4 linked regions of the Homo sapiens genome follow. The protein of the gene in region 4 interacts with the protein of the main gene of each other region in a biochemical or structural test. Each region holds a gene or a part of one and is shown on either strand. Other genes may lie near its edges.

Region 1 (2,939 bases), on a different chromosome or scaffold from region 4:
CATATCTGATTCAGCAGGTCTGGGGCGAGATCTGAGAATGTGCATTTCTAAAAAGATCCCAGGCGATCGTGATGCTCTTGGTCCTGGGGTCACACTTCTAGTGAAACAGTTTATTCCCACCTCTGATCCAGTAAAACATGCCCAGTTATCTAAGGAGGAGGGACTACATTGGCCAAGAGAAAGCAGCCTGTAGACTCAAGTGCACAATTGGGCTCCTCTCTAAAGAATGCTGATCCTCCAGATTCATGAATGGAAATTTTCTTTTCTAATGAACAGAACAAGATGTGCTTAAGGGTGTCTTGAGAGTATCACAGTCATCTTTATTAGATTCACTTGTGCCACAGTTTAGATCAAGGCACAAAGACAAGTGGAGGACTAGAATCTTCTGAGGAGGTGGAGGTACTACATCACTGGTGGTCCTGAGGCCCCTAAAAAAACTGGGAGGTGGGCCCTGGGTGTAGATGAGCCCACTTAGGCCTAAGATATCTACATGGCCGAGAGACAGAATATAAAGCCCCACTTTCCCCTAGCCCCTCCTACCTTTTCATAAGCCTTGGCTTTCTTACCTCACTGGTGAATGTGCCTGATCAAGAATAGTGTCTCTATTCTTGCCTCAAGGAAAGAACTATTATTTTGTCAGCTGGGTATGGCTGAGACATCATAGTATGCTGAGAAATCTTCCAAATGCATGTGCTATAGATGTGAATTAAATTTTAGCCTTCTAGTTAATATATCACTAAATTCTGTGTTCCTTAATTTTTTTATTACTCTCATAACATGAACAAATTTTAATACTCCTTAAGTGTCAAAAGTTGTTCTTAAATGGCCAGAGTGAGCTACAGCTGCAACATGATGGCCAGTTTGAGAACTTCCAGTTGGCTCTGCAGTTAGACTCCCAACAGCTGAGATCCCATGGTTGAAATCTGGTTTTATCTTTTGCTCTAGTGCCCTTTCCCCATTTACATACAGAAACACTTGGTTGTTAAAAAATTATGTCTAGTGATACGCATATGTCAAAAATCACATACCCCATAAATATATAAAATTATTAATTAAATATTAAAAGGGTGTGGTTCGGTGACTTGAGATTCTCATTTTCGTTTTTCTCCCTGGCAACAGTTAATTGGCATGCTGCTGGCCTGCTGTCTGTCCCGGTTCATCACGGCCAATCAGTATGAGATGGTGTAAGGAGAAGGTAGGTGACAGTGGGGAGTGTTTAATTTTGAGGGGTCCCCTTTGGGACACTTACTACCCTTCAAATGTGCAGGAGTACTCCCTGGCCATTGAGCTACCTGATCTTGGTGGCACTTGTCCATGTTCAGAAATCTCATTTCTGTGGTTCTGGGAAGGAAGTATAATTGGTTCTTTTGTGGAAAATGTGGAAATGCTTTTTTCAGCTTGTTATCTTTCAAGTCCTTATTACTGGTGAATCACTCACATGTTCTCATTTCTCTCTTAGTCTTTCAAGAATGACGGAATAAGAGACCTGTTTTAAAAAGGAACTGCAGCAATCTTTGAAAGACTTCCAAAGAATGTTAGAGCACAGTACATAATACACTTGCCCTGCTCCCTCTCCCCCTTACCCCACAACGTGCAACTGACACTCCCACCCAGTCTCTGCTCCACCTTTCAGCCCACGTCACGTGTAGTGTCCATTTTGTGAAGCCCTGTTGTGCCACAGAGTGTAGCCAGGTCCCCCTGCAGCTAGTCCTAGTGAACCTCACCCCGAGGCCCTGCATGGGCCAGCCCCTCCATCTGTACTTGGTCCAACTGCAACTCATCATCGGTGACTGGTTATCACACCATCGCTGGCCCCTTTGGGCCCTGCATGTAGTGTGGGAGGCTCCTGTTAGCTCCTCACTGTGGTAAATGCCACACACCTTTAAGTAGATAAGCAGACGATAGTTATCTGTTCTTTTGACTTAATCTCATTTGGTTTGATTTTCCCTCTACTAAGGCTTTCCTACCTTCTTCAGGCTGCCTAAGACATGTAACGAAACACTTCAATAATTGTCCATGAGGAGAAAAAAAGCATGTGTCATGCATGAAGGAAACTGAACTTGAGGTGGCCTCCTTGCTTGTTACATACCTGGGTATGTGTAGGCAGTTTAGTGCATCTTTGCCTCTCGGTTGAAACCTGTATAACCCTGTTACAAAGCTGTGTTGTTGCTTCTTGTGAAGGCCATGATATTTTGTTTTTCCCCAATTAATTGCTATTGTGTTATTTTACTACTTCTCTCTGTATTTTTTCTTGCATTGACATTATAGACATTGAGGACCTCATCCAAACAATTTAAAAATGAGTGTGAAGGGGGAACAAGTCAAAATATTTTTAAAAGATCTTCAAAAGTAATGCCTCTGTCTAGCATGCCAACAAGAATGCATTGATATTGTGAACATTTGTGATATATGTATTAATAAATAGAGCAATTACAAGCAGCTGTGTTCTGGTTCTGTTCTTTGGTTCTTATGAAAGTTTTAAAACACATTTCTTTTCCATCTTGCTCTTCAGGACATCGCAGGCAGGTGGACCATCTCACACACTGACACACCTCTCCATGTGTGCTCCCACCCCACTAAAATAGCATCAGCAGCAGAGAAGCTAAAGGGTTAGGTTTTTTTAATTATTGTTATGGACACTTCAGAAACTTTAACCATTTATCATGAACAGAATACATTGTTGTCTGTGGAAATAGAGCCTTCATATCATTTCAGGCCTCTGAAATCCTTGGGCCTGAAATCCGTGAAATAAATACAAAGATTTCAGCTGAGTTTTTAAAGTCTGGATTTCATTTTGTTAAAAAGGAAATGAGCCTCTATTCTTTCCTTCATCGCTTCTAATGAGCATGAATTCTCCTCTTTCCTCTTTCTTTTCTGTGTTGGATTGAAAAAACACGATCTAGAGAAGAGATTACATCCTACGATTCAGCCATCCCAAT
Region 2 (3,455 bases), on a different chromosome or scaffold from region 4:
GGGCATGTCCAGAACCCGGCAATGTGCCTACCTGTCATGTGCAGGGATGGCAGCCTCTCCCGAGACCCACGGTTCCTGCAGGGGCAGGCAGCTGGCCTGCGAGGGGGTCTAACCTGCAGGGAAGCTGTGCCCTGCCCACCGCTGCCCCCCCTCCTACTGCAGGTGTGCTTCCCTTTGGGCCATCTTCTACCTTCCTGAGCATGACAGAATGGCCTCAGCTTGGCCCTGCCCTCTGGGGGACACAGCAACAATAAAAGGGCCTGGGTTTCCTGGAGACAGATTCCAGCCCAGTGTTGCTCGCAAGCCGAGCCCCGAGGTCATCGGCAACTAGCAATTTGGCCAAGGAACCCTAGGCTACAAGAGGATGACCGCCTTCACCACCGTGGAAAGAAAAAGGAAAAACTTGCTTTTGATTTCATGCTGGGCACAGAGGAGTTTCGCTTAACATACGTGTGGCTGGAGACTATGAGTTCAGAATTCCTGTTTTGAACATGCGGAGAAGGGGCTGGGGGCCGTCAGGAGGGAGGGCAGCCCCAGGCAGCTCCCCAGGGAAGGCCAATCCCCACAGCCTCACCAGAGTCTCCTGGTCCCAGACTCACTGGGAGTGACCCAGGGTGGGAGGTGCCCAGCACTCAGCCATGCTTCCTGCAGGGAGGGTGGGGATAGGGTGCTAGGAGCCCACAGGGTAGGAGCCAGCCTGGGAGCCCTGGAGGCGGTAATCTCACCTTCCACAGCCACATCTAGGCGCTGCACTGCTCCAGCTGTGCCTGGCACAACCTCCGGGCTCATTTTAAGAGGAGCAGGTGTTCAGGTATTCTCAACACACAGACCCCACATAGACACCAACCCAGGTGTGAAAATGTCGGGAATGTTGGAAACAGCGTAAGGCCTGCAGTGCCTTCTCATAAGCCACACAGGCGTTTGCACTTGCACATTTGTAGAAAATTCTCCATGGGACCATATTCTCTCTCCCCATACAGCTCCTTTTTCTGGAAGCTACAGGTAACAGAGCTGAATTCATGCTCTTACTCTCAAATCTCCTAGCCTTCCAGACATCTCCCTCTTTTTTTTTTGGGACAGAGTCTCACTCTGTCAACCCAGGCTGGGGTGCAGTGGTGTGATCTCAACTCACTGCAACCTCCACCTCCCACATTCAAGCAATTCTTAAGCCTCATCCTCCCAAGTTGCTGGGATCACAGGCGTGCACCACCTCACCTGGCTAATTTTTGTATTTTTGTAGAGACAGGGTTTCGCCATGTTGGTGAGGCTGATTTCCAACTCCCGACCTCAAGTGACCCACCTATCTCGGCCTCCCAAAGTGCCGGGATTACAGGCGTGAGCCGCAGCGCCCGGCCTCCAGACATCCCCTGTCAGAGATGTGCCTCAGGGCTCTCCAGGGACCAGGGGTCAAAGGCTCTGTCCCCAGCCAGACAGCCTTACTCTTGGGATGACTCTACCTTCCCAGAGCCTGGTCTTAGATCAGGAGCCGGGGATTAACGGGTCCTGGAAAGCCAGGGATCAAAATCCCTGCCGTCCATCTGGAGACACTGGGAGGAGGCGATGCTCCAGCAGAGGCAGGACCTGCTTACCTTGCACTCGCAGCCCATCTGGTACCTGTGGTTCAGGCTCTTCTTCTGGGTGGTGCTCAGGGTGTCCCAGGGCACGATGAAGTCACAGAGGGTGATGTGCATCTTGCCGTCCCCCTCGGCCTTTCCTGCGGAGAGACGGGGATCACCGAGCTCAGGGAGAGGGAAAAGTCCTCCTCCTGCCCAGCTCCTCCACCCGGCGCAGGGGCGCTGGGATTTCGTTGCAACAATCCTGTGCACTGTCTATTCTGAGTTAAAACACAGTGGGTGGCCAGGCACGGTGGCTCACTCCTGTAATCCCAGCACTTTGGGAGGCTGAGGCGGGTGGATCTCTTGAGGCCAGGAGTTCAAGACCAGCCTGGCCAACGTGATGAAACCCCCTCTCTACTAAAATACAAAAAATTAGCCGGGTGTGGTGTCACACGCCTGTAATCCCAGCTACTTGGGAGGCTGAGGCAGGAGAATCGCTCTTGCACCCCAGAGGCGGAAGTTGCAGTGAGCCGAGATCGCGCCACTGAACTCCAGCCTGGGTGACACAGCAAGACTCCGTCTCAAAAAAATAAAAAGTGGAAAAAAAAAGAAAGCCATAATGCATGTTCACTGACAGAAACTTAAACATTGGAAACAAAGAAAAAACTTCCTGGCCAGGGGCGGTGGCTCATGCCTGTAATCCCAGCACTTTGGGAGGCCGCGGCAGGTGGATCACAAGGTCAGGAGATCGAGACCATCCTGGCTAACACGGTGAAACCCCCGTCTCTACTAAAAATACAAAAAATTAGCCAGGCGTGCTGGCGGGCACCTGTAGTCCCAGCTACTCAGGAGGCTGAGGTAGGAGAATGGCGTGAACCCGGGAGGCGGAGGTTGCAGTGAGCCGAGTTGGTGCCACTGCACTCCAGCCTGGGCCTGGGCGACAGAGCGAGACTCAGTCTAAAAAAAAAAAAGAAAAGAAAAAAATTCCCTACTTTCATTACCCACAGCTAATATTTTGATGTATTTCCTTCCAATATTCCACTATTGATTTTGAGACAGTCTTGCTCTGTCGCTCAGGCCAGAGTGCAATGGTATGATCATAGCTCACTGCAGCCTTGACCTCCCAAGCTCAAGCGATCCTCCCGTCTCAGTCTCCTGAATAGCTGGGACTATAGGTGTGAACCACTACACCCTGCTAATTTTTTATATTTTTTTTTGTAGAAACAGGGTCTTGCTATGTTACTCAGGCTGGTCTTAAACTTCTGCGCTCAAGCAATACCCCCACTTTGGCCTCCCAAAGTGTTAGGATTATAGGCATGAGCCACCACGCCTGGCCCCAATATTCTTTTAAATTAAATTTTATTCTAAAAAAAGGATAGAGACGATGTTTCACCATGTTGCCCAGGCTGGTCTTGAACTGAGCTTAAGTGATCCTCCCACCTTGACTTCCCAAAGTGCTGGGATTACAGGTGTGAGCCACTGCGCCCGGCCAATATTCTCTTCTATGTGCATCTTCACACATAAAACGTCATGCAGTATGTAGATTATATTGTTTCCTGTTTTGTTTTTCACAAAATATTAATTCACAGGTGCTTCTCCCATTTGAGTTTAAACTTATAATTCTGCATTTTTCCATTATGAAGAGCCAAAGCATGGAATTTTTGAAAATTAGGAATCTGCTCTGAATTCCCTTCATCAGGCATGATGAGCTGTGGCTTCTTTCTGTACTTCCGGCTCCTGACTCAGCTGCCTCCTTCCTTTGCTGAAGATACTACATTGGCAATAGCCTTGGCGTTTTACAAGCAGGAGGAAAAGAACAAAGCAGTGTGTTCCAGTGGCTGACAGAACCTAATGACAGCTATGGAAGTCATTTAAAAACTCATCCCTCAGGCCAGGTGC
Region 3 (3,500 bases), on a different chromosome or scaffold from region 4:
TGGCGGTTGGGGGGACAACGAGATTTCATTCGTAGGATTATAATATATAGGAAAGTATTTTGGGGAAAAAAAGGTTAAGAGTTATATAATACAGAAGAAAACATCATTAATATTATTTATATATTATAAATGTTAACACTAATATGTATTATAAATGTTATAAATATAATACATAAATAATTATGTATTATAAATGATCAGGAATAGTGAGACACTAAGTGAAAAACAGAATCTTAACTAATGCAAAATTATTTTACCTTCATGTTGCAGGCTAATTCCATTAGTTTTTTTGCATTTTCTTCTGAGCGGTATCTCTTAGGAAGCTGAACCCTAAAGAACTTCAAGGCACCTTCAAAGTCTGTCAACAGCAGGTCATCTTTCGAAGTCTTGAAGAAAATACAAACACATATAGAAAAAATGTGTTGCTATAAGGATGCACAAGAAGTTTTTTATATTCTCAGCACTTTTCAGCACTTTTACAATCCCCAGAAGATACTTCTTAGCTTTTGTCAGAGCCACCTGCATACATCCACTGTTAGGGGTAATGCTAGATTTCCAGCACTTTTATAATCCCCAGAAGATATTTCTTCGCTTTTGTCAGAGCCACCTGCATACATCCACTGTCATGGGTAATGCTAGTGCACAGTGACTGCTCAGAATGAGACTACAACCAATGTATTGCAAGTGCAGAGCAGGGAATGACAGATAACTCAGCTAATAAATAAATGAGTACCTTTAATAATCCAAGGGCGACATTAAAAATAACACTTATTCCCTGAAAGAGAACAGACAAAAAGAACACTGTCAGTTTTTATATCTCGACTATTATGCTATTTGTCCTTATACCCCACATTTTTAAAGAAATTGTGAAAACTTAAGGAAGGAAATGCATTATCTCAGAACTACCTTGAAAAATAAAAACTAAAGGGCCATTGAAAAGCTGCTTAAAGACCTAGCTTCCCCTTTTTCTGAGAGAAGAGCTTTTCTTGCCCTGTTCTCATATTCAATAATAAGAAATGCTTTTCCAAAGCATTCCATGCTTCCAAACCAAAAGATCAGTCATAAAGTTGTGATCTCTCAGGAAATAACTCCTGGGGAACTTTTCCTTTATCTTGTGCTGTCCCAATCCATGCACAGCAACCACTCTGTCGATAAGCCCTATATTCCAGAACTGAATCTGCTCAAGGCTCCCTCCATTCTGCAAATCCTGGGGCTAAGAACAAAGGAGAGGAAGCACTAACATCTGTTGATCAAGTTAAACTGCTTAAGCTGCTGGGCCTCAGTTTCCATAACTAATACTCTCCTATGGGTTTTCTGAGATAATTAGCTGAAAAGTTTATGTAAATTACTTAGCATGCCACCTGGCCTTTAGTAGCTACTTAACAGATGGTTGTTTATACTACTAAAAAGCTAGAAACAATTTAAAGGTTTGTGATTAGAAATTGGTTACATAAAGTATAGCACATCCAAATAATGGGATACTTGGCAGCAACTAAGAAAAACGGCATATTTGGTAATATTTATTTCTTCTGTTTCTTAGAATATTTCAAGCTGAGTGGTAGATACAAATTCTTTATGAATTTTTGTATGTTTTGAATATAGCATAATTAAAAAGGATAGTACAGATGTGTATGTTCAAGTATATGAAATTTAAAAAGAGGATACCAAAGAGTATAAATAACAATCATATTTTTAAATATACACATAGGAGAACCATAATATATATAGTGTTCCATCCATATGGAAACCATACTATTCTGTATAGTAATTATACATACACATATATGAACACATAAAAAAGGCTGAAAGGATACTGCTTTTAACCAAACTGTTAAAGGAGGTAACCTATAGACAGTGGGATTTGTAGTATTTTAAATTATTTTTACTTATATTTTCTATAAACATATATTATTTTTATAATTATGTTTTTCTTAAACACACCACACAAAATCCAAAATTACGTCATGGCAAAGACTGTTATTTACTCTAATATCTTATTTTCTCTTTAGTAATAAATCTCTAATTTTTAGCAAATTCCTGCTCAGCTTATTTTTTAAAAAGTCTCCCTTGCAGCTAGGTGTGGTCATGTAACTAAGTTCTGACCATAAAGTGGAAATACTGGATGGAACTTCCAGGAAGTCTCTTTTGAAAACAGAGGAGGCACCCTCTCCCATCCTCTAATCCTCCTGGCTTGAATATGATATAATGGCTGGTGTGCTACTCCTCCATACGGCTAACAGCCAGAGTGAGGGGAAGGCACGCTACTGCCAACATTGACTTTTTTTCACAAGAGAGCAAAAAGCTATTTTTTAAAATCACTGTTACTTTGGGTTTCTTCATTCAATACAGCCAAAACTAATATGAACTAATACAAATGTCTAATTCAGTACGTCTTTTCAGAGTACACCTTTAACAAATACGATCATTAGCTTTAGTCCAAGGAAGTCACTTAAACCTAGATTTCCTAGCAATAAAATAAAATAATTAAAGAGACCAATTCTGTTTTGACAGAGCTGACACTCAAAACAGAATCTGTTCTCCTCAAGTACACTGCAAACAAAAGCCAAAGTGCTGTGGCCTCTGATACATACCTCACATAAAAGCAGGTCGATGATATGGAAGACCATGTAGAGAGGGAATTTTGCAGTGAAAAGAGTAAGAAACCACTGGGAGGCATACATGTGTGCTTCAAGGCTTATATCCAGGAAGTGGTTGTACAGGTCAGGAATGTATTCCTGAAATAGCAAACCAATTAGTTCTGGGCACATATGCATCTGTCCAATTCCCACTAAGGAGGCTCATAAATCTACCAGGAATAGGCCAAAAAAGTAAAATACTTGTGTTTTTCTAAAAATCTCCAAAGTGCTTAGAACACTTATCATCTGGTATTAAGCTGGCACTCAACTCTTTTTTCCAGACCACAAACTTGTTCTAAAGAAAGAGGAATCCCCAAAATGGTGACAAGTATTTGGAAAGCCTGTTTTTCTCTCCAAAGTAAAAAACATTTGGGAAAGTTTGTTTCACTTTTGTTATGAGATTCCTAACCAGTCAGCTTCAGAGCCTTGGGGAGTACTTCTTGACTGAGTTAGCTGTGGAAAAGACCCCTAACAAAGTCATCTGATCTTTTGGGAGTTTATCAGCTCACATCCATGAGGTGTGAAAGTTTAACACTTTGTTAATCTTTGCATCATAATCACATAGTGATAAAGGATAAAAATGAAACCCATCCTTAGCCACGGATCGCTAAGGCAATTACCAATGCTCCCTGGCACCATTTCCTCAATTTGGTGCTCCTTAGTCCTGTACTCTTTTTGTCAAACACAAGCTGGTTTCTCTTTTTACCTGCATGAGGCGCTCCAACTGGTAAAATTTGCAATGCAAATCTTCGAAGTTTTGCTTGAAAAGTTCCCTGAGCCCATAGTCAAACATGATCTTGACCAGAACACTGAATGCCTGTTCTTCAGGCATCTGTAACAGATAGGCAAGTTGTTGGGTAGGGA
Region 4 (3,500 bases):
TTTGGATTTCGTGATCAATTTTCACTATCCAACCCTAAAATTTACTCATAACAAATTTGTTATTTAAGGATAATACTGGTGGGGCACAGTGGCTCACGCCTGTAATCCCAGCACTTTGGGAGACCGAGGTGGGCAGAGCACTGGAGGTCAGGAGTTCAAGGCCAGCCCAGCCAATGTGGTGAAACCCCATCTCTACTAAAAACAAAAAAATTAGCCTAGCATGGTGGCAGGCACCTGTAATCCCAGGTACTCGGGAGGCTGAGGCAGGAGAATTGCTGGAATCTGGAAGTCAGAGGTTGCAGTGAGCTGATATCACACCACTGCACTCCAGGCTGGGCGACAGAGAGAGACTGTCTCAAAATAAATAAATAAATAAACAGAAAAAGAACAAAAGATAATAGGATAATATCATTCTAGGCACAGGACTGTTATGAGGATTAGAGCTGACAGGCTGATTTCATATACTGGAGTGCATTTGCCAAATACAACCACCCCATACAAAACAGAGTACTGACTCCCTGTGACAGTTGAGAGAAGTGAAGTGACTCAATGCTGTTCTACTTACTAAGTGGAAGAGGTGGGATTTGACCTGAGGTCTAACTGATTGCAAAGCACATTCTCTTTTCACTACAACATGGCTGCTGTTTCTATATCACATTACTTATTTTACGGTCTTTCTAAACGCGAAGTTAACATACAAAAAGAAAAGCCACAATAGCGATATTTAAAGCCAGACTTAAAAAAAGAACAGCAATAGTGATAAAGGACACACAGTGCAGTAAAAAAGATAGAAGTTCACATGCAAAGGCAGAAAGTGAAACAAAATACGAACGGCAATTTAGAGACCAGCTTTACGTCCGTAGTTTGGATTCTTGAAATTATTAATAGGACTCTTGTAAATCGGATTTTCTTGCTAAAGTAAAAGAAATAGTTTCTAATGATTTCATCAGAAAAAAAAAATCCCTTTATAGTGTTTGAACACTATAAATGTCTTTTTTTTTATTTCTACCCTTCTGAAATTTGTAATTTAAAAAATTGATAATTTTTAAAAACCCAAGCAAATTGTAGTAAAGTGCAACTAACTACAAAATTCATTTACAATTTAAAAATACTGAAGATTGGCATTGCTTTCTTGTATCAAAAGATGAATACACAAAGGCCAACATTTGGTTACCCCACCCTCTGACTCCATATTTCAAAGCACTCAATGCTAACATAACCTTTCGGTCACTTAGGGCTTTTAAGATTTTTATAAGCCAAAGTTTACTGAGATATAATTTTCATAGAGGAACATACATCTTTTTAAAGTACATAGTTCTGTGAGTTTTCAAATACATAAATCCACCCACAATCAAGATCATCCCAAGGAAGATCCCTTACGCCCCTCTGTGGTCAACACTTTCCCCCATTCCAGCCCCTAGCAACCACTGATTTTTGCCCCTACAGTTTTGCTTTTCCAGAATGTCCTCTAAATGGAATCATATAGTATATAGCAGGGGTGTCCAATCTTTTGGCTTCCCTGGGCCACACTGGAAGAAGAAGAATTGTCTTGGGCCACACATAAAATACACTAACGATAGCTGATGAGCTTTAAAAAAAAGTTACCAAAAAAAAATAATAATAATAATTACAATTTCTAAGAAAGTTTACAAATTTGTGTTGGGGCCACATTCAAAGCTATTCTGGGCTGCATGTCCTGGCCGACGAGCTGCGAGTTGGACAAGCTTGGTATATAACCTTTTGAATCTGGCTTTCACTGAAGGTTTTTTTTGTTTGTTTGTTTTAAAGAAAGAAGCAGCTTTCCATTGAATAGCTTGCTACACAGATAACATTATTTAGGATTCTACTTCACATTAGATGAAAAGGCAGATTTAGGATCAAAACTATTAAAGAAATAAAAATACTGGCCACAGTAACCAGAATATACATGCTTATAATCAATGTTTTGTTTCAATGGGATATATTTAGGATGCTTTCTGTTTTTCACTAAATGCAAATTCCTTGAGTAAGAAACTTTTGGGGGAATAAAATACTTAGAAAGGACTTTAATAATCAGCCTGACAGCTAATACATAAGTCTTAGGAGTATTACATTTACTTTATAAGCCACTTTGCTTTTTGGATGTTTTGTAACTTACCGTGTCCCATTTGGCATTCATTTTCTCCTTTTCAAATTTAGCAAACTCCCTTCTGTCATGAATTATCATTAAAAGCTTCCATATCAGCAGTAATGCAAGGCCAATAAGAACAATTCCAGCAACCACACCAGCTACAATTGGAATGATGTCTGGACCAGTGGGACACTCTGGAAAATAAGAAGGTAATAATGAGCACCACAAAGAGCTGTGCAGTGTCTTATAAAAAACATACAGGAATAAACACCCAAGAGAGTGAACGCACACTATCCCAAAGAATCTATAAAATAGCTCTTAGAACTAACAAGTGAGTTTACAAGGTTGCAGGATACATGATCAATGAACAAAAATCATGTATTTTTCTATATATATAATTTATTTCTACATATTGAAAATATAAGTTTTTAAACAGTAATATTTACTACAGAATGAAAAAGCATGAAAAACTTACATATAAGTCTAACAAAATATATGCAAGATTTGCATGTTAAGAATTACTAAATACTGATAAAAAGAAATCTTTCAGACTGAATAAATGGAGAGATATTCCATGTGCAGGAGTTACAAAACCTAATACCGTTAAGACGTCAATTCTTCCCAATTTGATCTATAAACTCAATGGTATCCCACTCAAACTCCTGGCAGAACTTCTGTAGCAATCAGTAAGCCACTTCTAAAATTTACATGGAAGGCAGGGAACTAAGGAAGTGTCTCAAAAACACTTTTGTAAAAGAATAAAGTTGGAAGACCCTGCTTTCAGGCCTAGCTATAAAGAAAGCTACAAGACCATGTGGTATAGCTAACACTCAGATACATGGAACAGAATACAGAGTCAGAAACAGGCCTACACATGTAAGGTCACCTGATGTTCAACAAAGGTGGAGAAAAGACAGTCTTTTTTCAACAAATGCCCCTAGAACAAGTGGACACTGACATGAAAAAAACTGAGCCTTTTGTCACACACTAACTCAAAATGAGTTACAGATCTAAATGTGAAACCCCAGAAACTATAAAACTTCTACCAAAAAACAGAGGAGAAAAATCCTTATAATCTTGGGTTAGGCAGAGTTCTTAAAGACAATGTAAAAGCAAGAGCCACAGAAGAAAAACTTGGTAAACTGTACTTAATCAAAATTAAAACCTGTGGTGTTCAGAAGACACTTAAAAAAATGAAATGATAAGGAGACACAGGCTGGGAGACAATATTTGCAAAACACCTAGCTGATAATTCAAAACAGTATGGGAGTCTAAGAGTCTGGCAGCTTCTTAACAAAGTTAAACATATGCTTACCATATGCTCCAAAATGCCATTTTTAGTATTTACCCAAGAGAAATGAAAGCTTATGTTCACACAAAAACATGTACA

The links.
Region 1: the proteins of ITGB1 (region 4) and TSPAN7 form a complex in vitro, tested with the Homo sapiens proteins (one study listed by BioGRID).
Region 2: the proteins of ITGB1 (region 4) and TIMP2 form a complex in vitro, tested with the Homo sapiens proteins (one study listed by BioGRID).
Region 3: the proteins of ITGB1 (region 4) and RABGAP1 form a complex in vitro, tested with the Homo sapiens proteins (one study listed by IntAct).

Annotation. Positions count from the first base shown.
Region 1 is NC_000023.11:38,686,480-38,689,418, forward strand, and holds the end of TSPAN7 (tetraspanin-7), read left to right. Parts: intron 1-1,119; coding exon 1,120-1,188; 3' UTR 1,189-1,195; intron 1,196-1,459; 3' UTR 1,460-2,439; downstream 2,440-2,939. UniProt on the Homo sapiens protein: May be involved in cell proliferation and cell motility.
Region 2 is NC_000017.11:78,855,933-78,859,387, forward strand, and holds part of TIMP2 (metalloproteinase inhibitor 2 precursor), read right to left. Parts: intron 1,715-3,455; coding exon 1,590-1,714; intron 1-1,589. UniProt on the Homo sapiens protein: Complexes with metalloproteinases (such as collagenases) and irreversibly inactivates them by binding to their catalytic zinc cofactor. Known to act on MMP-1, MMP-2, MMP-3, MMP-7, MMP-8, MMP-9, MMP-10, MMP-13, MMP-14, MMP-15, MMP-16 and MMP-19.
Region 3 is NC_000009.12:123,073,520-123,077,019, reverse strand, and holds part of RABGAP1 (rab GTPase-activating protein 1), read right to left. Parts: intron 3,469-3,500; coding exon 3,343-3,468; intron 2,736-3,342; coding exon 2,592-2,735; intron 776-2,591; coding exon 734-775; intron 387-733; coding exon 258-386; coding exon of another isoform or gene 249-257; intron 1-248. UniProt on the Homo sapiens protein: May act as a GTPase-activating protein of RAB6A. May play a role in microtubule nucleation by centrosome. May participate in a RAB6A-mediated pathway involved in the metaphase-anaphase transition.
Region 4 is NC_000010.11:32,906,231-32,909,730, forward strand, and holds part of ITGB1 (integrin beta-1 isoform 1A precursor), read right to left. Parts: intron 2,305-3,500; coding exon 2,138-2,304; intron 914-2,137; coding exon of another isoform or gene 839-913; exon of another isoform or gene 833-838; intron 1-832.